Homo sapiens: one gene and its partners. The protein of the gene in region 1 purifies or fractionates together with the protein of each later gene. This does not show direct contact. Each region holds a gene or a part of one and is shown in the gene's direction. Other genes may lie near its edges. The genes, in order: ADARB1, DDX56, GLYR1, GZF1, CCDC137, SPTY2D1 and PUM3.

The links.
Region 2: the proteins of ADARB1 (region 1) and DDX56 purify together in Homo sapiens (affinity purification with mass spectrometry; one large-scale study listed by BioGRID and IntAct). This does not show direct contact.
Region 3: the proteins of ADARB1 (region 1) and GLYR1 purify together in Homo sapiens (affinity purification with mass spectrometry; one large-scale study listed by BioGRID and IntAct). This does not show direct contact.
Region 4: the proteins of ADARB1 (region 1) and GZF1 purify together in Homo sapiens (co-immunoprecipitation; 2 studies listed by BioGRID and IntAct, with this or other methods). This does not show direct contact.
Region 5: the proteins of ADARB1 (region 1) and CCDC137 purify together in Homo sapiens (co-immunoprecipitation; 2 studies listed by BioGRID and IntAct, with this or other methods). This does not show direct contact.
Region 6: the proteins of ADARB1 (region 1) and SPTY2D1 purify together in Homo sapiens (co-immunoprecipitation; 2 studies listed by BioGRID and IntAct, with this or other methods). This does not show direct contact.
Region 7: the proteins of ADARB1 (region 1) and PUM3 purify together in Homo sapiens (affinity purification with mass spectrometry; one large-scale study listed by BioGRID and IntAct). This does not show direct contact.

Annotation. Positions count from the first base shown.
Region 1 is NC_000021.9:45,081,080-45,084,579, forward strand, and holds part of ADARB1 (double-stranded RNA-specific editase 1), read left to right. Parts: intron 1-3,500. UniProt on the Homo sapiens protein: Catalyzes the hydrolytic deamination of adenosine to inosine in double-stranded RNA (dsRNA) referred to as A-to-I RNA editing.
Region 2 is NC_000007.14:44,571,109-44,575,083, reverse strand, and holds the start of DDX56 (probable ATP-dependent RNA helicase DDX56), read left to right. Parts: upstream 1-1,175; 5' UTR 1,176-1,188; coding exon 1,189-1,248; intron 1,249-1,339; coding exon 1,340-1,501; intron 1,502-2,033; coding exon 2,034-2,194; intron 2,195-2,339; coding exon 2,340-2,510; intron 2,511-2,646; coding exon 2,647-2,737; intron 2,738-3,347; coding exon 3,348-3,592; intron 3,593-3,975. UniProt on the Homo sapiens protein: Nucleolar RNA helicase that plays a role in various biological processes including innate immunity, ribosome biogenesis or nucleolus organization. Plays an essential role in maintaining nucleolar integrity in planarian stem cells.
Region 3 is NC_000016.10:4,830,289-4,833,788, reverse strand, and holds part of GLYR1 (cytokine-like nuclear factor N-PAC), read left to right. Parts: intron 1-876; coding exon 877-1,015; intron 1,016-1,567; coding exon 1,568-1,810; intron 1,811-3,500. UniProt on the Homo sapiens protein: Cytokine-like nuclear factor with chromatin gene reader activity involved in chromatin modification and regulation of gene expression. Acts as a nucleosome-destabilizing factor that is recruited to genes during transcriptional activation.
Region 4 is NC_000020.11:23,368,682-23,372,181, forward strand, and holds part of GZF1 (GDNF-inducible zinc finger protein 1), read left to right. Parts: intron 1-80; coding exon 81-248; intron 249-902; coding exon 903-1,060; intron 1,061-1,409; coding exon 1,410-1,760; 3' UTR 1,761-3,500. UniProt on the Homo sapiens protein: Transcriptional repressor that binds the GZF1 responsive element (GRE) (consensus: 5'-TGCGCN[TG][CA]TATA-3'). May be regulating VSX2/HOX10 expression.
Region 5 is NC_000017.11:81,672,068-81,674,399, forward strand, and holds the end of CCDC137 (coiled-coil domain-containing protein 137), read left to right. Parts: intron 1-8; coding exon 9-88; intron 89-427; coding exon 428-637; 3' UTR 638-1,832; downstream 1,833-2,332.
Region 6 is NC_000011.10:18,624,343-18,627,842, reverse strand, and holds part of SPTY2D1 (protein SPT2 homolog), read left to right. Parts: intron 1-3,500. UniProt on the Homo sapiens protein: Histone chaperone that stabilizes pre-existing histone tetramers and regulates replication-independent histone exchange on chromatin.
Region 7 is NC_000009.12:2,827,096-2,830,595, reverse strand, and holds part of PUM3 (pumilio homolog 3), read left to right. Parts: intron 1-647; coding exon 648-822; intron 823-1,817; coding exon 1,818-1,921; intron 1,922-3,444; coding exon 3,445-3,500. UniProt on the Homo sapiens protein: Inhibits the poly(ADP-ribosyl)ation activity of PARP1 and the degradation of PARP1 by CASP3 following genotoxic stress. Binds to double-stranded RNA or DNA without sequence specificity. Involved in development of the eye and of primordial germ cells.

The DNA of each region.
Region 1 (3,500 bases):
ATTCTCTCCATCATCTGTGCAGTGGAGAGTAGTTCCCACTGCTGTGGAAACATTTTCCCTTTGCTCTTTTCTCTCAGGGCAGGCTTTCCTGAGTGCCTGCTCTGTGTGAGTCATCGTGGGAGGATGCGGTGGAGAAGGACAGGGAGGAGGTCTGTGCTTCTTTGAACTGACATTCTGGTGGAGAAACTAAACAGATCACAGAGGCAGACACCGTGCCTCACAACTACACACGGACCCGGCTTATGATGGTTCCAGTAACAATTTTTGACTTGACTGTGGTACCCATACAGTCATTCTGTTTTTCACTTTTGGCATAGCATTCAATAAATTGCATGCGATATTAAGTACTTTGTTATAAAATAGGCTTTGTATTAGATGATTTTGTTCAATTGTAGGCTAATGTGAGTGTTCTGAGCACCTTTTAGGTAGGCTAGGCTAAGCTTTGATGTTTGGTAGGGTAGGTGTATTGAATGCTTTTTCAGGTTAGGATGTCTTCAACTTGCGATGGGTTCATAGGATCGGAACTCCACCGTCAGTCAAGGAGCACCTGTGCTGTCTTTATTGGCATGACCGAGGAGACAGGGCTGAGGTAGATGGCATCAAGAGGGTGGCTCCTGGTGGAGGTATGATGTTCTGGGAAGGCCTCTCTGAGTGCGATGTGGTACGCTGAGGCCCAGAGGGAAAGCATGAGCTCATGTCAGGAGGGGGGACAACAGCCTTCTGGCTAGAAGGATAGCCTGCCAGAGAGCCTGCTTATTAGAGTGGCCAGGATAGGACCAGAACCATTGTCCAGTCAGGGGCTAGGAGGTGAGGCTGCAGAGACACAGGGGCCAGGTCCTGCAGACTCTCAAGAGTGCAACAGGAAGAATGGAGGCCTGGGTTGGCACTGTTGCCATGATTTAGCGGGGCAGAGGTGGCAGAACTGGAGAAAAGAGAGCAGGTGTGAATTCTTGGTTGTGGGCAATAGATCAGGTCTTGGAGACAAGGGAAGTGGAGGGACCAAGAAGGGCTCTTGGAGCTCTTTGGATGGTGATGATGTGATGATGCCACGTTCCAGAGGATCTCAGGTTAGGAGTCTTCAACTAGAGACCTCATTTTGTATTGGGTTCTGTTTGAGTCTGCAAAGCAGTTGTCATCTAATATGTGACTAGCAGAATATTTGTTTGTATAGATACCTCTCAACTTACGATGAGGTTCATAACTTAAATATATTGTCAGTTGAAAATGCATTTAATACACCTAACCTTCAAAATTCAAAGTACACTTTCTATTAAATATGTATCACTTTCACACCATCATAAAGTAAAAAAATCATAAGTCAGACTGTTGTAAGCCAGCGTCTGTCTGTACCTTCCCACGGCCTACAAAATTTGTAATGCATTGTTTGTAAAACACAGACACGTGCATTTAAACTTTTATTAGGTAGAACTGGCTCTTCTTCAGGGTCCTTGTAATTAAGTCAGTTATTCCTCTCATGACATTCTTGTAGGAGGTCTCATTACCCCTATTTATCAGATCAGAAAACTGATGCTAAGGGGCTCAGTGACTTCCTAGGAAAGCTGGATAATGTTTAACATTTATTAAGCTCTTACCATGTGTCAGACATGGTAAAGTGAGTTTAATCTAGTTTAATCCTCATGATGATCTTAGGATGTTGCTATTAAGGGTCACTGTCATCATCCCTTTTTACTGATAACACTGGCCTGGCTTACCTGAGTAGCCTCCTAACAGATCTCTTCTTCCACTTCTGGTCTCCTTCAGTCTGTTCTTGACCAGCAGTCGGATCTGAGCCTGTACATGGAAGACATCACGTCATTCTCCTGCTCAGAGTCCCCCTGCGGCCTTCTTTCCTGCTGTCCCTTCCTGCCACTCAGAGCCCTGGCTCCAGCTGTCTTGGGGCCTATAGCTAGCCCTCACTTCAGTGTTCATGCACCATTGTGTGCTGCGTGCCCTGCTCACTGTTCTGTTTATTTCTGCCATCTGTACCCACCACTACCTTCCTCCCCACACAGCCTGCCTGGCCAGAATGAAAGCCTCAGGAAGGCAGGGCTATTGCTCTGAATCTGTCCTGAGGGCTCGGAGCAATGCCTGGTAGATAGACACTTGTAAGCCTTTGCTGAAGGAGAGAATAACTTTAACTTACTTTTTCTGTTGGTAGTAAGTAGTAGAACCTGCATTAAGTTTATCTGCTTCTGAAAACGTATGCTTTTGCTGCCTCCCTACACTGCCCCCCCATCCTATTGTACTTGGTGAATCAGTCATATATTTATGCCCCATATGTCTGTGTTATCTCCAGATTTCCACACTTTTCTATGTAGAATAGAAACATTTATAAAACATTCAAAATTGTTATAAAACCATAAAGTTTGACATAGTAAATTATCTGTTGAAAACAGGGAGGCCACATCCTGGAAAAGTAGCTCTGTCCTGCCAGCATCATTTTAACCCCTTTTGGACAAGATACAGTTGAAATGCATTCTCTGAAATAATACTTATAACTACATCTTGACAGAAACAAGAATATTTCGAATAATTCTGGGAGGATTCAGGAAAAGGCAGCCAAATAAAATGAAAAAATACATTTGATTCAACTGTGGAGGCTTAAAGGAATTACACATCTTTTTTGTTTTTTTGCGACAGCGTCTTGCTTTGTTGCTCAGGCTAGAGTACAGTGGTACAATCATAGCTCACTGTAGCCACAACCTCCTGGGTTCAAGCGATCCTCCCGCCTCAGTCTCAGCCTCCCAGGTAGCTGGGGCTACAGGTGGATGCCACCACACCCGGCTAATTTTTGTATTTTTTGTAGAGACGGGGTTTTACCGTGTTGCCCAGGCTGGTCTCGAGCTCCTGGACTCAAGGGATCCAATTGCCTCGGCCTCCCAAAATGCTGGGATTACAGGCGGAGCCATTGCACCTGGCCAAAAAAGCATCTCTTATAAGCTGTTTTTGGTGAAGGAGCAAACAGGAAAGTGTCCCAGAATTTGGGAGATCAGGATTGTAATCCCAGCCCTGCTTCTGAACAGGATGGTGCATTCTCTTCATGCCTCTGCTGCAGGCTCCTTGGATGTAGAATGAGGGCAGTTGAATTGCTTGTTGCCGAGGTTCTCTCCATTTCTGGAAGACTATTGTAAGTCAGAGTCAAATAATCATTCATTCAGTTGTCCAATAAATACTCATCATAGAACCTATGTGTAGTCCTGTCTAATGGTAGGTGGTGCTACGTCACTTCCTGCCATGGCTGCCGAGGCTCACGCGAGGCTGGCACTTGGCAGAGAGTCCTGTCCCTTCTTTTGACTCAGTAACTGTGGAAAGAGGTGAGGTATAGGAAGGGAGGGCCTAGGCCTTAGGGGTTAAGCGGGCTTAGGAGGCAGGATTGAGAGAGGTGGAATGATGGATTCAGAGTCCAAGAGAAAACGTGAAACTCCAGGGGATTAGAATTGATCCCTTTCTCTGTTTCCTCAGTCTTAGGGGGACTAGACTGTGTTAGTTGTCTTGAATTA
Region 2 (3,975 bases), on another chromosome or scaffold:
ATGGGCCTAATGTAATCACAAAGGTTGTTTCCTTGCCTTTTCCAGCTTGGCTCTGGCTCCCTTCCTCCAGCAAGGGTGGGTTGAGCTCTCACATGGCACCACTTTGACCTCTTCTGCTTCCCTCTTCTACACTGAAAGACTTATGGGCCAGGAGCAGTGGCTCGCACCTGCAATCCCAGCACTTTGGGAGGCCGAGGAAGGCAGATCGCTTGGCCCCAGGAGTTCAAAACCGTCCTGGGCAACGTGGCGAAACCCCATCTAGAAAGAAAAGAAGAGAAGGGGAGGGGGGAGGGGAGGAGGAGTTACATATATACACATACACACACACACACACGTACGTACATACATACATACACGCTAACTGGACGTGGTGGTGCGTGCCTGTAGTCTTAGCTTTCCAGGAGACTGAGGTGGGAGGACCACTTGAGCCTGAGATCGCGCCAGCCTGGGTGACAGTCAGACCATGTCTCAAAAAAAAAAAAAGATTTGTGATTAGGATTCTTAGTCCTCACCTGTATTATTTTCCTATTGCTACTGTAACAAATTACCACAAATTTACTGGCTTAAAACGACGCAAGTCTGTAGGTCAGAAGTCTGACACGGGTCTTAACTGGTGACCCGAGTCAGATTTGGGACACAAAGAACAGAAACCAAGCTGTGCAGGTTTCTGACAGGCAGTCCGGTTAGGGAGCCCTACAGCAACCCGCCGGTCCTCTCTCTCAGGCAGTTGCTGCCATGGCTCATTATTCCAACCGGTTCTCCTCAGCCCAGTCTATCTCAGTGGCTCCATTCATAGGGTGATGTGCCCGGCGGGACACTAACCCTAACCAAGCAGAGAGACGGTCATGCCCGTCACGACCTCGGCCCTCGCCCCGGCCGAGGCTTCTCCTGCAGGTCGCGAGAATCAGGTGCGTCAGCGGCGTCCGGGAACGCCGGAAGAGCCAGTGGAGCGGCTCTGTAGTCCAAAGTACCCCGTCGACCCCAGCACGGCCGCTCCACCGCCTCCTACTAGACCCAGTCCTAGGGACTGCGCAGTCGCAGAGCTCCGTCCGAGTACCGGAAGCCTAGGCCGCCAGCACTTCCGGGAAGTGACTTCGTCTCCGAAGCCGATTGGTTGTTGCTTTGCTCCCGCTCGCGTCGGTGGCGTTTTTCCTGCAGCGCGTGCGTGCTGCGCTACTGAGCAGCGCCATGGAGGACTCTGAAGCACTGGGCTTCGAACACATGGGCCTCGATCCCCGGCTCCTTCAGGTACACGCGAGGGCTGGGGAGCCGGCTTACGGGCTCTGCGGGGCGCGCCATCGCTCTTCACGCCGCTTAAACCGCACTCCTGGTCTCCTAGGCTGTCACCGATCTGGGCTGGTCGCGACCTACGCTGATCCAGGAGAAGGCCATCCCACTGGCCCTAGAAGGGAAGGACCTCCTGGCTCGGGCCCGCACGGGCTCCGGGAAGACGGCCGCTTATGCTATTCCGATGCTGCAGCTGTTGCTCCATAGGAAGGCGGTGGGTAACGAGAGAGCTGAGGGGAGGAAGGAGGCAAGCTCCAAAAGCCTGGGAAGGGCGGTTCCCGTTTGTCTGAGGTTTTCTCTTGGCCCTGTACCCGTGCAGGCCGGCCTGAGAACCTGGTGCTGTTGTGGCAAACACTCTGGGCTGGAGTTCAGGTTACCTGGATCCTTGTCCGGCCCTGCTACCACCAACCTTTGCGTAATCTTCGACAAAGCACTTTCTTTTCTTTCTTACATAAAAAGGGAGCACATCTATCTTTTCTACTTACAGAATTATTGTGAGAATTTAGCTTCATAACTAGTATATTTAAAGTAGCTTCATAAACATCAGAGTACGTTATTCTTTTTGAGGGTCAGTGCCTGGGGAAAGAACTCTCCACTCTGCATTCTGAGGCGGGCAGAGTGATAGATGATCAAAGTACTGCTAAGTAGTGTTGCAGCAGATGGGTCAGGTAGGCTGGAAGGGGTAGAGACACGTGGACACAGTGATGTGCACTGCTGGCTAAAGTCTTTAATTCATATTCTTACAGACAGGTCCGGTGGTAGAACAGGCAGTGAGAGGCCTTGTTCTTGTTCCTACCAAGGAGCTGGCACGGCAAGCACAGTCCATGATTCAGCAGCTGGCTACCTACTGTGCTCGGGATGTCCGAGTGGCCAATGTCTCAGCTGCTGAAGACTCAGTCTCTCAGAGGTGGGTAAAAGCAGCAAAGCTGTACCTGAATGAAGCTACACAGTGTTGTGGGGTTGGGTTTGTGTGTGGCAAAAAAGAGAGCAAATCCAGGGTGAGATCCCAGCTGCTACATTCTGCCTGATACTGATGTCTTGTCCACCTCCAGAGCTGTGCTGATGGAGAAGCCAGATGTGGTAGTAGGGACCCCATCTCGCATATTAAGCCACTTGCAGCAAGACAGCCTGAAACTTCGTGACTCCCTGGAGCTTTTGGTGGTGGACGAAGCTGACCTTCTTTTTTCCTTTGGCTTTGAAGAAGAGCTCAAGAGTCTCCTCTGGTAAGGCAGAGGTGGGTGTGATTCCTAGTGGAAACATCTGTGAGTAGGAGTTGGGACGAGAGCGGGGTGGCTGGAAGCCAGTTACTACAATTAGCGGCCCTTGGAGCTGGAATCTGATTGGATTCTTTCATTTCAGTCACTTGCCCCGGATTTACCAGGCTTTTCTCATGTCAGCTACTTTTAACGAGGACGTACAAGCACTCAAGGAGCTGATATTACATAACCCGGTAAGAGGCACCATGGAAGTGTCTGGAGCTGCAGACATGGGGGCACTCAAAGATCTTGATGCTCCTTCTTAGGGGATTCTTTGGTGTTTTGGGTGGGACAGTTGTCACTTAGTGTCTCATCCCTGGTCCTGAGGCACTAAAAGCCAGTGGTCTAAAATCACTATATATTTCCAAGTGTCCACAAGGGATGTCTCCCATTTCAGGCCATGCTTTGCCTAAAATCCTGAGCAAGGACCTCCCCTAAGGGGCAGCTTTGAGCAGCAGAGCCAAAATTCTAAGGCCAAGGTTCTCATCTTAAGTAAACTTTACCTTTCAGAAGGCCTGTTGCTGTAGGCCTTCCCTTCTCAATGTAGTCCTTTATTGATGTGTTTCTCTTTGTTCTGTGCTTGGAAGTATTTTATATATGGTTTATATGGTATACTCTATATACCACAACAATAAGGGCATTTTGGGGTTTTAGGTTACAAAACTGGAGGAGAGTTAGGGTGCCAGGAATCCTTAAATGCATCTCTGCCCTGCACTAAAATGTTGATGCTTTGGTTGGTGAGTAAGTGGCCATACATCTCTGTGTTCTTTTCCTTTCTGACCACAGGCCTGTTTTCTCCCCCAGGTTACCCTTAAGTTACAGGAGTCCCAGCTGCCTGGGCCAGACCAGTTACAGCAGTTTCAGGTGGTCTGTGAGACTGAGGAAGACAAATTCCTCCTGCTGTATGCCCTGCTCAAGCTGTCATTGATTCGGGGCAAGTCTCTGCTCTTTGTCAACACTCTAGAACGGAGTTACCGGCTACGCCTGTTCTTGGAACAGTTCAGCATCCCCACCTGTGTGCTCAATGGAGAGCTTCCACTGCGCTCCAGGTCTGCCACAGCCAACATCTTGGTTGAAATAAGTTGAAGATAGAGATGGAAAGGGGACCCAGTTAATGTTCTGTTTCTTAAGCACTTAGTAGGGGCCAGGTTCTAGATGTGACTGATACTGACTTCTCCCAACTCCAAAATACCTATCATGGCCGGGCACCATGGCTTATGCCTGCTGTAATCTCAGCACTTTGGGAGGCCGAGGTGGGCGGATCGCCTGAGGTCGGGAGTTCAAGACCAGCCTGGCCAGCATGGTGAAACCCCGTCTCTACTAAAAATACAAAAATTAGCTGGACATGGTGGCAGGCACCTGTAATCCCAGCTACTCAGGAAGCTGAGATAGGAGAATTGCTTGAGCCCGGGAGGTGGAGGTTGCAGTGAGC
Region 3 (3,500 bases), on another chromosome or scaffold:
AGATCAGAAACCCCAGAATTGACAGCTGACTACTTTCACTTTCATGTGTTACACATTGATGGTTGAAATTAAAAATTACATATCGGAGGTGTATGTTCTTCTACCTTTAATCTCAAGCATCTTGTTTCTATTTTTTTTTTTTTTTGAGACATCATAAAACAGCATGCCATCTTGTTTTTAAATGCCTCCTTTTGTAACTGCTGCCCTTATTCCAAACCATGTGTTCCGTGTTTTGTGTGGTTTAGTAGCCATGGTTACCATCATTTATGAACAAATATAGGCTCAGTGGCTGTGAATATCCATAGGAACCACAAATTTTAGAAGATGTTGCATTTCTTCAGCTCTGTAACATCCCTGACTCTCTGTGGATCAACAGATCATAAATCTGGTTCCCATTGTTGACAGGCAGCAGGCATTTTCCTGCATAGTAATGCTGCTATCATCTATCACATTTCCAGGTACCCTGATTCCCAGGGATCTGTGTGTGGCCATTTGTGCTGCCTGGTGAGAATGGGAAAGGGTCTCCAGATTTCTTTCTGCCCTGAGCAAGTGGCAGCGTATATGTGGTTGGGCATTGGAGGCTGATAGACGATTGTGGAAATAAATAATCTGCAACACAGTGCTTTCACTGGAGGAACTTGATTTGTGGTTGCTGCAGTGGTGGTGATGGTTGTTCTGCTTGACTTGTTTCAAGAAAATATACTTTAGACATAAGACTCTGAGATGGTTGATAGCATGTTTTGAAAGAAATGGCAAGGCCTATTGCAAAGTCCAGTTAAACCAAATGGATATTTACACCGTGCCATAGTGAGGTTGTTGATACTTTAGGGCATATGCTATATGGTTCACACCCTTTTTGTGTTTGTTTTCTGCTAGTGCCTGGATCAAAGTGGAACAGCTGAAGCCATATCATGCTCATAAAGAGGAAATGATAAAAATTAACAAGGGTAAACGATTCCAGCAAGCGGTAGATGCTGTCGAAGAGTTCCTCAGGAGAGCCAAAGGGAAAGACCAGGTGAGAGACACAATGTTCACTTTCTACCAATGCCAGACTGGTGATTTTTGCATAGCAACTAACAGATTAAATGTCACCCAAACGCAAACCTTTGTTCTTCTGAAATGCTACTGGAGAAAGCTACTTCAGTTCTAAGGTGTCAGCGTTTTGCTTATCAGTTTGAAACTCCATGCAGCTAACCTTTCTGGAGTAGGTTGTTGCTTTTAGGAAAATTGCTTGGACCCAGGAGAAATATCTCAGCATTTGAGTCTAGCACAGGCCATTTCTTCCTTTCATAGCACACAGATTAGGAGCATAGCCTCTGAAATACATATACTGCCTAGATTTAAATCCTTTCTTCTAGTTTTGGGACATAGGGAAAGTGACTTTTGATATATATATTTTTTAAATCTGCTTCTCCCAATGTCTGGGACGACAGCAGAATCTATTTCTAGGGTCATTGTGAGGAGACCACACAGAGTGCCTGTAGCAGCACATGGCACCTGTAAATGATGGTGGCGATGGCGGCAGCAGCTGTGGTGGTAGTTATCATTATTATTATTAAACTTTCAGACGTCATCCCACAATTCTTCTGATGACAAGAATCGACGTAATTCCAGTGAGGAGAGAAGTAGGCCAAACTCAGGTGATGAGAAGCGCAAACTTAGCCTGTCTGAAGGGAAGGTGAAGAAGAACATGGGAGAAGGAAAGAAGAGGGTGTCTTCAGGCTCTTCAGAGAGAGGCTCCAAATCCCCTCTGAAAAGAGCCCAAGAGCAAAGTCCCCGGAAGCGGGGTCGGCCCCCAAAGGATGAGAAGGTTTGTTTTCTCTCTGCAGCTTCCGGGATTAGTGATGTCCTTTTAGTACAAGGTAGAGTTAAGCTCTACAGTATGCTTATGTAGTATGCTTATCTATACTCTGCTCATGGAGTGGGAGCAGAATTCTGTGCTCAAGAATCCTGCAGGGCAGGTGCGGTGGCTCATGCTTTATCCCAGCAACTCAGGAGGCTGAGTCAGGAAGATGGCTTGAGCCTTGGAGCTCAAAGTTGCATTGAGCCGATTGCACCACTGCATTCTAGCCTGGGTGATGGAGTGAGACCCCGAATCTTATTTAAAAAATTAAAAAATAAAGAATCCCATAGACCAGGTGAGAGACACGGCCTGGATGCAGGTGTAAAGTAGGAGCGCGAGGCAGGAGAGCAGTCCACTTGAGCCGGTGCACAAGGGCTGGCCCTGGGAGGGGCTTAGCAAGAAAGAAGGGTAGGCATTCCAAAGATGGAGGGCACAGCCCGTGTGAGGCTCGGTGCTGGTGGAGATACTCTCGAACAGGGAGAGGATAGTGAGGAAAGCCGAGAAAAAGGAAGCTTGTCCCTGGATCGTGGAGGGCCTGAAGGTCTACTGAAGCAGCGTGGTACTAAAGCGTCTTGGAGTCAGTGGGGGCCCGGGAAGGTGACTGAGCCAGTGGCAGTGTGTGCCTCCCGTGTGTGCACCAGTAGTCACCGAGTGCAGAGGGGAAAGTCTCAGAGCCAATTAGGAGGTAAGTCTAGGCGTGCATTCATAAGGGGGTAATTGCAAATGTTGCAAGCAAAGAGGTGAGAGGCACTTCAGAGGAAGAGTTCTTAAGATTCCATAATTGGTTATATAGAGGATGAATGAGAAAAAGGAAAAGAGGATTTCCATCTTCATTCCTGGGAAAGTGGTCATCACTTTCTTAAAAGTAGAGGACTGGGGATGTAGAGGTGGCTTGTGGAGAAAGAGTACCAGTTCTGTTTGGAATGTCAAGAACTTGAGGCAAGGCCTAGACAGCCTGGGAGCTTGGTGTGACCTCAGGACTAGAAATGTAGATTTGGGAGGTGAATTTGTAAAAGGGTAGTTGAGTCCGGGCAGTGGAATGGGTTTGTTTCAGGAAGAGAGGGAGAAGAGGGAAGCGCGGAGGCCTGCATTGCCACAAGAATGCCGTGCTTGGGGCAGGAAGGAGCAGGAGGAGCTAGCAAGATGAGATAAAGCAGTGAGAGTGCCTCTCTCGCCTTCTTGCTGACAAGATTTGGGGCCGGTCTTACAAGGCCACAGAGAAGAATTTCAAAGTGAAGGGGACTGTGTCAGGAACGCGGTAGGATTGTCAACAGCAGGATAAAGAGAACAGAAGCCAGATGGCTGGCAGCAACAGTTGGGTGACGAGGCCATGATGGAACATTAGACCTTGGATCAAGGCTCAAAAATTCAGACACCAGCGAGCCCAGGCAGGTAATGGAAGCAACTGTAGCTGACTGGACCTAAGAAGCAGTGGCACGGGTGCCAGGCACCCCAGCTGACCTGCCTTGGTGCTCAGAGCAGCAGGGCTGGCCATGGTCAGGGAGTCTGGGGAGGTCATGCTCTGTCCACAGGGTTCTAGCCAGCTTCTGCCAAATTGTCTGTTTTTTCTCAAGAGAAGCTGGGAAGGCCAGTTGTGGTGTCTCATACCTGCAATCATAGCACTTTGGGAGGCTGAGGCAGGAAGATCACATGAGCC
Region 4 (3,500 bases), on another chromosome or scaffold:
GTTTTAACAGTGGAGACCTACTGTTCCATGTGTTTTTAATGCCTGTATTGTTTATGACTTTATTTCATTTTCTCATGTAGGTGAAAGACCTTTTATGTGTGAAACATGTGGCAAGAGTTTTGCTTCTAAGGAGTACTTAAAACACCACAATAGAATCCATACTGGATCCAAACCCTTTAAATGTGAAGTATGTTTCAGGACTTTTGCCCAGCGGAATTCACTGTACCAGCATATTAAAGTCCACACAGGTATGGTTGGAATGTCCCAGGGAAGGGAGTTTAGTTTGGCCAAAAAAAAAATTCTAAAGCTTGTAGATTTACCAGTAAATTACTTGGAACTAAGCTTTTGAAGAAAACTGGCCAAACTTTGTATGTCATAATAGCATTTCTTTAGAGATTGTTTCTAACTCTGAGAAACTGAAAAGTGGGAGCACTTATGTGTGTAAACGGGAGAAGACTAAGTCCCTTTGCTACATGGAGTTTTTACTGAAAAGGACAGACAGCTTAGTCATGGTGTGAATGTAGGAAGTGGATGTGGATGTGTGGACATAGGGATAATGATCTGTACATGTTAGTAAATGCACATGCACACATGCATATTCAGTTGTTAGGGGTCTTGTAATTTTATACTCCATTACCATGGAAAACAGGTGTCATTCCTATAGTTATAATACCTGCTGCAGGCACATGTCCTGGCCCCTTTTTGGTGTAGGCCATAAATTCTTGGTATTATAGAGATAGTGGATTTGTAGCCCTTAAGTTGTTCCCAACATAACCTTCCTTATGTTGGATGCTGAGGCTTCCCAGTGGTTTGCAACAGCATCATTCACTCAAGTGTGTATTCAGAATTAAGCACAGTAGGCCAAAGGGACCCACCAGCAGTCTCCTCTCTCCCTGCCTCAGGGGAGCGTCCCTACTGCTGTGACCAGTGCGGCAAGCAGTTCACCCAGCTCAACGCCCTCCAGCGCCACCGCCGCATCCACACAGGGGAGAGGCCATTCATGTGCAATGCGTGCGGACGGACATTCACCGACAAGTCCACTCTTCGGCGGCACACCTCAGTAAGCAGTGGGTTGGCTTATTTGAGAAACAAGCTGCTGCCCTTAGATGCACGGAAAGAGAAATACCTACCACCATTCTCCAAGGTGGTTAGAGGTCGAGACAACAGGTACTTTCTCCTTGGGTTGTCTCTGCAGTGGAACGCTCACGGAATGAATGAAGTGGAACACCAAGCCCCAAGGCCCAGGGAAAGCACCATCCACGATGACTACTCTGTAACAGTGAGGGTGGTGGCAGGCGGGTACTTATTAGTGAAAGTTGAAAATTGAAGTTGTAGAGGGACTATTGTTTTAAAAGATGCACTTGTCCAGAGACACATTCAGTGACCTTTGTTTTGTGTTTAACTTATAGATACACGATAAGAATACTCCATGGAAGTCTTTCCTTGTCATTGTAGATGGCTCGCCCAAGAACGATGACGGACACAAGACTGAACAGCCTGACGAAGAGTATGTGTCATCCAAGCTTTCGGATAAATTGCTGTCTTTTGCAGAAAATGGCCATTTCCACAACCTGGCTGCAGTCCAAGACACTGTACCTACCATGCAGGAGAACAGTTCTGCTGACACAGCCTGCAAGGCAGATGACTCCGTGGTGTCCCAGGACACCCTCCTGGCCACCACCATCAGTGAGCTTAGCGAGCTGACCCCACAGACAGACTCGATGCCCACACAGCTTCACTCTTTGAGCAACATGGAATAAGAGCTTCAAGCAGTTCCCATCCTGTTAGTCTGCGTGTGTGGTAGCTGAACTCAAGATGATGTGGGGCTAAGAAAAATAATTGTCCATGTGCAAAGATGTGGGCAAGAATGGCCTCTGCAGATTTTCCTGAACTTCTGCTAACTTGCACGGCTTTATCACAGCATTTTTAAAGCTTTCCCTCAAAAATCCTGATCTGCATGATCTCAGCTACTTTATTGACAAAAAGGCAGTGAACATAACCTCACTTAATTCTGGTGTAGGGTGTATGTGCTAATCGTTCTAATTCTTGATTACCTAGTTTATAGATAACTGCTGGTCTTAATTGCAGAGTACAGAGAACTGAACCAGCTCCTGATATTGTAGTTAGCAGTCTTCCTGGCTTCTCACTCTGCCTTATATTTCCATGTGGGTTTACTTCTCTCATAACTACTTTCAAGGTATTTTTCTTCCAAGCTGAAATAAAACTGGGGCCACATATTTTCAGTCATTTCTTCCCTGTTGAATTGAAGCAAATCAGATTTTCTGTGGGGACCCTCAAATGCAACTGAAGAAATAGATTGTTGCATTCATTCCTCCCCACCCCCCATTTGTAGGCAGTAAACAAAGTATGACTGACAGATTGAACACCTGCAAAACTGCTAGCGTAATCTCAGCACATACGCAGCTAGGAAGTTTGTCATAAAATCAACTTAGAAATGAGATGAGGCTGTTCAGTTTGTCTTAAAAAAATCAGATTAGGTAAAAGCTGTCCTACCAAAGAGTCTAGCAAAACAATATAGTATTTTTTTGCAGAGGCATGAAAAATTAAGACGCTTTAGAGTACTTGAAAGTTGTGTAGTCATTTTATTTGCAAAATGAGGTGACTGTGGCAAATTATAGAACACAGAGTATTATTACTTTTGCCAGGTTTTTCTGACTTGATTTCTGTAATTTCCAGAAACCCAGACTTCTCATTTCCACACCTAGAGATGGAAACAGGCAAGTAACTGACATGTCTATTTCCTTGGGAGCATGTGAGAACATAGCAGTAGGGACCAAAAGTCTCAGCACACTTACCTCCGATTATGCCTTAAAGAGTTGATTGTGAAGAACCAGTAACTTTGTCCCAAATGCTTCTTTGGCTGTTTCATGCAGGACTTAATTATTGCTTTTAAAAATTCACAATGAAAAGACGATTCTGCTGTATTTGTTAAACGTTGACATTTGGTTCTAGGGCCTTGAGTATGTGCCACGTGCTTGTGAAATGCTATGATTCACATGTAACATTTAAACATTAATTTAAAAAGGGAACCTTGGAGAATTCTTTTGTTCACTAGTTCCTTTTTTCTCTACATTTTTAATTTATTAAACTTGCTGTGAAAACACTTTGATTTTCTAAGAGGAAGGTACTTTAAGTTCCAGAATGAACATGTAGCTGCACTATGCCAGAAATTAATGAGGGAAGACTTTCTTCCTAAGTGCTTATGTTTTAACTTATGTTAGTGAAACCACTACAAGGTGTTTCAGGCGCTGATAACATGCTTCACACCTGCCCTTGGAGGTCACAGTACTAATTTACTTCAAATTTAGTTATGACAGTGTCACTGTATCCTAGTTATGTTTACAGCACAAATAAATAATGACTGTCATACATCCAGAGGAGACCGAACCTGCCCAGCTGATGTACTGTTTTATGGAATAAAGTCACTTGATCAGAAGGAATTGAAACAATAGATCATTTTGTTACCTACTGGAGGGATT
Region 5 (2,332 bases), on another chromosome or scaffold:
TCCTCCAGACACGGTGAAGTTTGGTGAGGTTGTCCTGCAGCCCCCAGAGCTGACTGCCAGGCCCCAGAGGAGCGTAAGCAAGGACCAGGTAAGTGGGGCACGGGGACAACTTGAGTTTGTCCCCCAGTGCTGCCAGGGAACAGAAGCCTTGGACAGGCTGGACACGGTGGGTCACACCTGTAATCCCAGCACATTGGGAGGCCAAGGCAGGCGGATTGCTTGAGCCCAGGAGTTGATACCAGCCTGGACAACATAGCGAGATCCTGTGTCAAGAAAAAAAAAAACCCTCAGCCAACGTGTGCGCTGTCTGGTGTGTGGCCTGAGAGTGCAGTGTTCTCGCTGGCGGGAGAGCTGTTGAAGCTGTGAGGCTTTCTGTTGCATCCCCTCCTTTCCCAGCCTGTGCCTCACCCTCCCCTCTCTCCCTCAGCCTGGCAGGAGATCGCAGATGCTGCGGATGCTTCTGAGCCCCGGTGGTGTGTCCCAGCCTCTGACCGCCTCCCTGGCCCGCCAGCGGATTGTGGAGGAGGAGAGAGAGCGGGCCGTGCAGGCCTACAGAGCGTTGAAGCAGCGGCAGCAGCAGCTGCACGGGGAGCGACCCCACCTCACTTCCCGGAAGAAGCCAGAGCCGCAGCTGTGATGGAGAGACACCCGGGGCCTGGCCACGCTCTGGGGCAACTGGCACCAGGAGCTGCTACACCTGGGTAGGAGAGAGGCAGGCCATGCCAGCAGTGTGGGGTGAGGCCTCCAGCTACTTGTTCACACGTTGGGCACTAGTGGGTCCACATCTTGCAGGGGGTGAGTGCCCGATGGACTAGGGCCAAGGCCTGGTTGACAGACGGCCCGTGGGGCCCGGTGTCACTCACAGCTCCATCTCTTTGTTTTGAACGTCCATTCTGAGTCTCAGCCCAGGTGGACCTTAGGAAGGGCTGGATCCCTGTCCCTGAACACCAAATACCGAGACAGCTGATGAGGCTGGCTCAGTGTGTGACGGAGGCCCCCGGGAGTCAGCAGAGCCGAGCGTACAGTGCACATCAGGCAGAGCAGGCCACGGGCAGGGACGACGCATCGGGACAGGGCTCTGCAGGGGACCGTGACTACAGGCCAGCTGTGAGTGGTCCCCTACAGAGGCTGCCCACCCAAGGTTTGGTTGGGGTGAAACATGATGACAACACATACACTTAAGAAGGTGGGAACCGGGGGCCGGGCGCGGTGGCTCACACCTGTAATGCCAGCACTTTGGGCAGCTGAGGCGAGTGGATCACCTGAGGTCAGGAGTTCGAACCAGCCTGGCCAACATGGTGAAACTGCATCTCTACTAAAAATACACGAAGAAAAAAAAAACAGTGGGAACAGAGTTGTCACCTACCTAACAGGGCTCTGAGAGAGCCGGGAGGCCCAAAGTGGCTGGAAGAAGGTAAAGGAAAAATCCTGTCTTGGGCTCAAGGTCACAGAGTGGGGCCCAGGGGGAGTTCCTGCTGAGGGCAGGGCCTTGCCAGGCTTCAGTCTCCAGTGCCAAAGGAGGAAATGCCCAGGCTGTCAGCATTTCCAGATGAGAGCAGAAGGGAGAAGCTTAAACCCAAGTCACACATCCAGCAATGGAGTCCGACAGCCCAGCACCATCTGGGAACTGAGAAGCACCTCTGCCCGGCCCCCACACCGTGTGGAAAGTGAGGAGCACCTCTGCCTGGCCGCCACCCCGTCTGGCAAGTGAGGAGCGCCTCTGCCCGGCCGCTGTGCAACCTTCCAAGTGTGAAGTGACAGCCTTGTGTGTGATGTTTTCTGCCTTCCCCAAGTTTGCACTTTCGACATTAAAGTTTACTTTTTAGTTAAAAGTTTTAAATTGGAGAATATATATTTAAAGTCAGGGCTGTTTTCCTCTTATGGGCATGTTTCCCACCTTGTGATGGACCTGGCGGCCCCAGCCCTCGCGTTGGGATGTTGTTTTTGCAGCAGCCAGAACTCAGCCCCAGATCACAAGCAGCAGCTGGAAGGGGGTGGCCTTTCCCTGGGAAAGGGCTGGGACGGCAGCGGGTGGCACTCCCACTCGCTCAATGCCTTTGGTTTTGGGTGTCAGATCGGCCCGTGTATGGCTAAGCAAAGGGATCCCACAGGGCTGGGAAAGCGCTCATGCTCTCCACTGCATCCATGATTCTCAGGTTTTAGCTGCTGGAAGGGAAACCCCTGGTGGTTTTTAGGGCCTCTTTGTTGCCCAGGCTGGGGTGCAGTGGCATAAGCACACTGCAGCAAGTTGTTGGGCTCAGGCAATCCTCCCACCTCAGCCTCCCAAGTACTTGGGACAACAGGTGCTCACCAACACACCCAAATAATTTTT
Region 6 (3,500 bases), on another chromosome or scaffold:
CAGTGGCATGATCTCGGCTCACTGCAAGCTCCGCCTCGCGGGCTCACGCCATTCTCCTGCCTCAGCCTCCCGAGTAGCTGGGACTATAGGCATCCGCCACCATGCCTGGCTACTTTTTTTGTATTTTTAGTAGAGACGGGGTTTCACTGTGTTAGCCAGGATGGTCTCGATCTCCTAACCTCATGATCCACCCCCCTCGGCCTCCCAAAGTGGTGGAATTACAGGCGTGAGCCACCGTGCCTGGCTAATTTTTGTATTTTTTGGTAGAGATGGGGTTTCACTATGTTGGCCAGTCTGGTCTTGGACTCCTGACCTCAAGTGATCCACCCGCCTTGGCCTCCCAAAGTGCTGGGATTACAGATGTGAGCCACCACGCCCGGTGAAGGGTTTTTTGTTGTTGTTGTTGTTTTTGGAGATGGAGTCTTGCTCTGTCACTCAGGCTGGAGTGCAATGGCATGATCTTGGCTCACTGCAACCTCTGCTACCCAGGTTTAACCCATTCTTTTGCCTCAGCCTTCCAGTCTTTGCTGGGATTACAGGCATGTGCCACCACGCCTGGCTAATTTTTTTTTTTTTTTTTTTTTGTATTTTTAGTAGAGATGGGGTTTCATCATGCTGGCCAGGCTGGTCTCGAATTCCTGACCTCAGGTGATCCACCCACCTCGGCCTCCCAAAGTGCTGGGATTATAGACATGAGCCACCATGCCTGGCCAAGGGTCTTTTATCTCAGCCATGTGGTCTGAGCCTGGTACAAAAAAATAAGGAAGTTAATTTAAAACAAAAGGTCATTAATTAATAGGTCATGCTCCAAGACTCTGTCTCCAAAGTCAACCTCCTCAGGGCTGAACAACCTTTAGAAGCCCCAAATAGACTCTCCATTTTCTTTCACAGATCTGAAGATGACTTGTCTCATGTCTGGGGCAGTGTTGGATTTCTAGCCTAGAGCAGTACCTCTCAACTAGTGTTTTAGGGAGAGGGTCTTTTAGAAACTACTGTTCACCTTTTTCCCATAGAGGTTCTGTTATTTCCCTTCCCCATCACTACCAAGATAATCTCTTTCTGAATAACAATTAACCTTTATAGTGCATACTCTGTGCCAGGCACTGTTCTAAGCACTTTATATATTAATTTAATCATCATAATAACCATATAATGAGCAGTATTTTACTAATGAGGAAACTGAGGCCCGTAACTTGCCCATGGTCACAGAGCTAACGCTAGATATGGTAGAGCAGAGAATCTAATCCAGGCAGATTAGCTCCAGAGTTCTTGCTCTTAATCATGAGCTTGTGTTGAATGAGGGGCGTGTACTGAGGATGGTATAGTGAGGAAGGTTGTTACCTACACAGCTTGAACCCATCCAGTTCCCTATCCCCAACTCCAGCCTTAGGCAGTAACTCTGTTTTTTTTTTTTGTTTGTTTGTTTTGTTTTTTAATGACATTCTTAGTATACAGTAGAGTCTGATGGGAGACAAATGTAAAGGCTGAACCAAAATCATTTGGAAACTGATAGGCAGAAGGATATTTACAGCTTGTTTAGGACAGTGCCAGCATGGTTAACAGAAGTAGAGTCTGAAGGTGAGGGAGGATAAGATAGAAGTTTGGTTGTAGACCTTTCTGAAGTACTGGCATTATCCAAGAGGCAGGTGGAAATTAGGGAAAGGAGGTTAGAACTAGAGATCCAAGTGTTGGAGTTAAATTAAAAACTAGAGATGAAAGTGGTGGAGCCAGGCATTGTGGCTCACGCCTGTAATCCCAGCTCTTTGGGAAGCTGAGGTGGGTGGATCATGAGGTCAGGCGTTCGAGACCAACCTGGCCAACGTGGTGAAACCTGTCTCTACTAAAAATACAAAAGATTACCTGGGTGTGGTGGCAGGTGCCTATAATCAGTCCCAGCTACTTGGGAGGCTGAGGCAGGAGAATTGCTTGAACCCAGGAGGTGGAGGTTGCAGTGAGCCGAGACCACGCCACTGTACTCCAGCCTGGGCAACAGAGCGAGACTCCATCTCAAAAAAAAAAAAAAAAGAAAGTGTTGGAGTTAAATTAGAAGTGACCATCATGGGCAACAAAGTGAGACCCCCCCCCCAATCTCTACAAAAAATACAAAAATTATTAATAGCCAGTTGTGGTGGTGTGTGCTTGTAGTCCCAGTTACTCGGGAAGCTAAGGTGGGAGACTCACTGGAGCCCAGGAGTTTGAGGCCACAGTGAGCCAAGGTCATGCCACTGTACTCCAGCCGCCTGGGTGACAAATCAAGCAAGACCCTATGTATTTCTAAAAAAAAAAAATGAGATGTGTTGTAGTGAGAATATTTTGGGGCTGAGTTAGGCGATCTGGATTCTAATTCAGACTCTGCTATAAACCGTGTGATTGCCAGTAAATACACAGGTGTTCTGGGCCATTTCTAACATAGAGGTTGGACTGGAGACTCCATGAGACACCTATCTGATATTATTACATTTTATAATCAGGTATGTTTTTGTAAACACAATAACAGTAAAATTTACATTTAACTCCATAGCAATTATGAATAGCATCTTTTGGGGCAGGTTATTAATTTTTATCCTCTTAGCCATCCAGCTAAGCAGTTCTAATGGAACCATTGGTTTTCCAGGCCTACTTTCTTTCTCTGACTCTGATGTTCTGAGAAAATTTTTAAAAACTGTGGTGATTATTAAAGTTAAGGATGCAGCATTCTTTGAATATTCCTAACTCCTAATTCTAACCAGTTATAAATCTCTTATGTAAAGCCATCAAGAAATTTATATTTTCTACAGTCGAAACAATATGTTATCTCCTGGGTAAAGAACAGCTTTCATGGAGGAATTGACTTTTTTTTTTCTTGAGACGGAGTCTCGCTCTGTCGCCCAGGCTGGAGTGCAATGGCGCGATCTTGGCGGACCACAACCTCTGCCTCCCGGGTTCAAGCAATTCTCCTGCCTCAGCCTCCCTAGTAGCTGGGATTACAGGCAATGCGCCATCCCGCCTGGGTAGTTTTGTATTTTTAGTAGAGATGGGGTTTCTCCATGTTGGTCAGGCTGGTGTTGAACTCCCAACCTCAGGTGATCCACCCACCTCAGCCTCCCAAAGTGCTGGGATTACAGACGTGAGCCATCACGCCTGGCCAGGGATTGACTATCGATTCCAACATAACATACAGTAGTCGGTGTACACATGTTTCTAGACTAATGTCTCCTTATTTTCTTAATCTGGCTTAGATGATACAGTTTAAATGCAAGGAACAGATATGTTTTAAAGTGGCTTAATATTTTCTAAAGCTCTTGGCTTCAGAGTTACAAATCTTGGCAAAATCTCTGATGTTGTATTTAAATGACAAGCTTCACTGTGGTGGATCATTCATTGGGGTGTAGCAGAATGACTGAGTTGGCTTGCAGTGTAATAAAATGGATATGCTTAGGATAAAAGAAACTCTTGTCCAGCTGCTTTCCATGAAGCTCAAACAATGAAGCAGCCTGGTGCCTTGACTCAGATTCAGAATT
Region 7 (3,500 bases), on another chromosome or scaffold:
AATAATTTTACATGATGGATGATTTGTGAATGTTTATCTTGAACCTCTGGAAGAAGAGAAATAGAATAATTAACTTATAATTAGCCACCAGTATTAAGAGGGTGGAGACTGGGGAGGGACAGGTGAGTAAACTGATAGAGGGTCAGTGGGTTAGAAAATGTCAACATGGGAGAATTTCCTAAATTAAGTGGAATTAGTACTTGTCTTGACCAATCTTTTTGAGTGTATTAATGTGCTAGAATATGATAATCAACAACAAAAAGTGTAATATATGCAGTTGACAAAATTTTCAAAAATGTATTCCTAGCTGTAGTTTCCAGCTGTTTAATTCTTTTAGGATATAGTTAAAATACTTGTGATTAAGTCCCATCTTCAAAAGGAATCTTAGAATATGATTTTCTATTTCCTTGAATCTTTTATCTTTTTTCCTGCCCTACTGTTTTTTTCGAGCAGAACAGTTTAATAGGAAATGACATTTATTGAGCATTTACTATGTGCTGGCCACAGCTTCTCAATGCATGCTAGCTCATTTACTCCTCAGAGTGACACAGATTGATGAGTTGGTCTTGGGAGAAGTAAGTTGTGTTTTATTGTCACCCAGCTTTCTCCTTCTATCATTTATTTTTCCATGATTGTGTTGCGTTTAGAAGTAAACCACAGATTGCAGAGATAATCAGAAGTTTTAAAGGCCACGTGAGGAAGATGCTGCGGCATGCGGAAGCATCAGCCATCGTGGAGTACGCATACAATGACAAAGCCATTTTGGAGCAGAGGAACATGCTGACGGAAGAGCTCTATGGGAACACATTTCAGCTTTACAAGGTGACATCTCCAGAAGTCTTTTTCTAGTATTTTTACTTTTCGATATGCTCTTCCTTAACTTCCGGTGCCCTATATATCTTTTGAATGTATTTTTACTGTGGCTGGTTCTTTAAGAGACCATCTTATGCCCTTGATTTTCCCTCATGCTTTATTTTGTTTCTGGTATAGTGAGCAAGTTTCTCTTTCTCCAGAGCATTGGCTTTAAATCCCCTTCAATTCAAACTTTGTTCCTCTCCTGAGTGCTCTGTGTGTAGCACTTCAATACTTCTATTTTTACAGTCATACTGAAGGACAAGACTCCCAATAGTTAGCAAAGTTGTGTGACCACCCCCAACCAGCTCTGGCTGAAGTGTATTGGGCTCTCTGTTGCTAGCTTCTCCTGTGTTTTTTCATGTGCATGCATTGCCCTTCTTCAGATTGTGTCTGGAGATGAAGGGGAACAGAGAGACCTAACCTTGGATAGAGTACAGGGATTGAATCTGAGAATAGTTAGCAGTGGGACTAGCTGGTTAAAGAATCTATTTCAAACCTTGGAACATAAATGCACACATGTGTCTGAAGGGATATGGATTGATTCCCGGGTTGCCTCCATTAGCCAGGTTCAATTCTTGGGTTGAATTTGTTGCTGTACTAATTTTGTTAACAGTTCGTTATATTTAATAGGAATAGCCAACTAATTATAAAACATATGGTGGCAAGAATTTGTGAAGTGACTACTTGATCTCATAATTGGGCAAGAGCTAGGTGCTTGGCAAGTAACTGTTAGCTGGTTAACTTGGTTGGCCTGGCTCTTTAAATGCACTGATAGATACACAGACTGAGAATCAGCTAATCAGGTTACTCCACAAGGATATACAGCAGAGCTTTCATTATGTAAATATGGGAAATCTTAAATTTGTTAAAACTTATTTTAAAATGACTAATTACTTTTCTTTTTCCTGAAGTGAAAAAATTGATTAAATTTAGAGGGGTTTGATTGTTTTGTTTTGTTGCAGTCAGCAGATCACCGAACTCTGGACAAAGTGTTAGAGGTACAGCCAGAAAAATTAGAACTTATTATGGATGAAATGAAACAGATTCTAACTCCAATGGCCCAAAAGTAAGAAAGTTGTTTTTGTTTTGTTCTTAAGAAATGACATTCAAAGGAGGAAGGTTTTCCATAACTGTTGCCCAGAAGAGGTAGCTATTTCCTGCTTACAAGTATTAATCTATTCTAAATAAGAGTGCAAAAGTGTTGGTTTGAAACCATTCTTGGTGCAAAAGGAGATTTCTTTTTCTGATATTGTACCCTATAAAATGATAACTAACATGCATTCGTGATTTATGAGCTTTTTTAAGCAATGAAACATTCTTTCCCCAAATAAAATGTTACATGGAAGCCATGTATACTAAACAGTTTCACAAATATAATCTGTTACTCAAATTTGGTTGTAGGCAAGGTACAGTGGCTCACGCCTATAATTCTAGCACTTTGGGGAACCAAGCTGGGAGAATCACTTGAGGCCAGGAGTTCAAGACCATCTGGGGCAATAGCAAGACCCCATCTCTACGAAAAAATAAGAAAATTAGCCAGGCTTTATGGCATGTGTGTATAGTCTTGGCTACTTGGGAGGCTGAGAGGCAGGAGGCTCACTGGAGCCCAGGAGGTCATGGCTGCAGTGAGCCATGGTTGTGCCACTGCATTCCAGCCTAGGCAACAGAGTGAGACCTTGCTTTAAAAAAATAAAAAAAAATTAAAAAATGGATTGTAAGACTTGGAAGCCTGTGCATGTGCCCTTCATGGCATCTGTCCAGTAGTGGAGTGGCTGAGCATAGCTTTTGGGACCCGACTGCCTGGGTACGACTCCTGGTTCCCCACTCCCCCAACTATTACTAACTGCAATCTTTGGCAACTTAACCTCCCTGTGCCTCAATTACCATATTTGTAAAATTGGGATAATAATAGTACAGACTTCATAGGAATTTTGTGAAGATTAAATGGGTTGGTTGTTCCAAAACACTCAGAACAGTGCTTTGCCCATAAAGGCAGTGTTAGTTTTTGCTGTCTACTTGGGTATCACCTGTGAACTTTAGGTCTTTTATGCCTGACCATCGGCCTCCACTGTACACCTGGATCCACCAAGTGTCACACTAGGGGGTTTGGATTAAGTAGGTGTTGTTGCAATTGCTGACAATGTTTGGTTCATTCAAGTTTTAATTCTGCTAAAATTATTTTGTGAAACAGATGGATTGTGAAGGGTGTTAACAGAAATAAAACAACTATTAAAAAAATACATCCACATGTGGATTTCTAATCATTATGTCCAGTGCTGGGGGAAAAAATGTAGATGTCCTTATTTAATAGAGCAGAGCATATTTCAAATGTTGATTTTATGTTTGCCGATTAAATACTAGAAGTTTATACTCTGGTCTTGGTTGTAGATGGCACTAAATCAATTTTACCATCTAAATTTTTGTTTAAGTTTTAGTATTTCTGAAAAATACAGTCTATTTTATGACAAATTGTATTCAGTAAAACCATTTCACTTGTTTAGATTACTTTAGGACTTTGAGATTACCTGTCTTTGTATGACTGTAGTGCCAGATCTGTTGTGTCTTTTTGCTTTTTTTTTCTGTTTTCAGGGAAGCTGTGATTAAGCACTCATTGGTGCATAAAGTATTCTTGGACTTTTTTACCT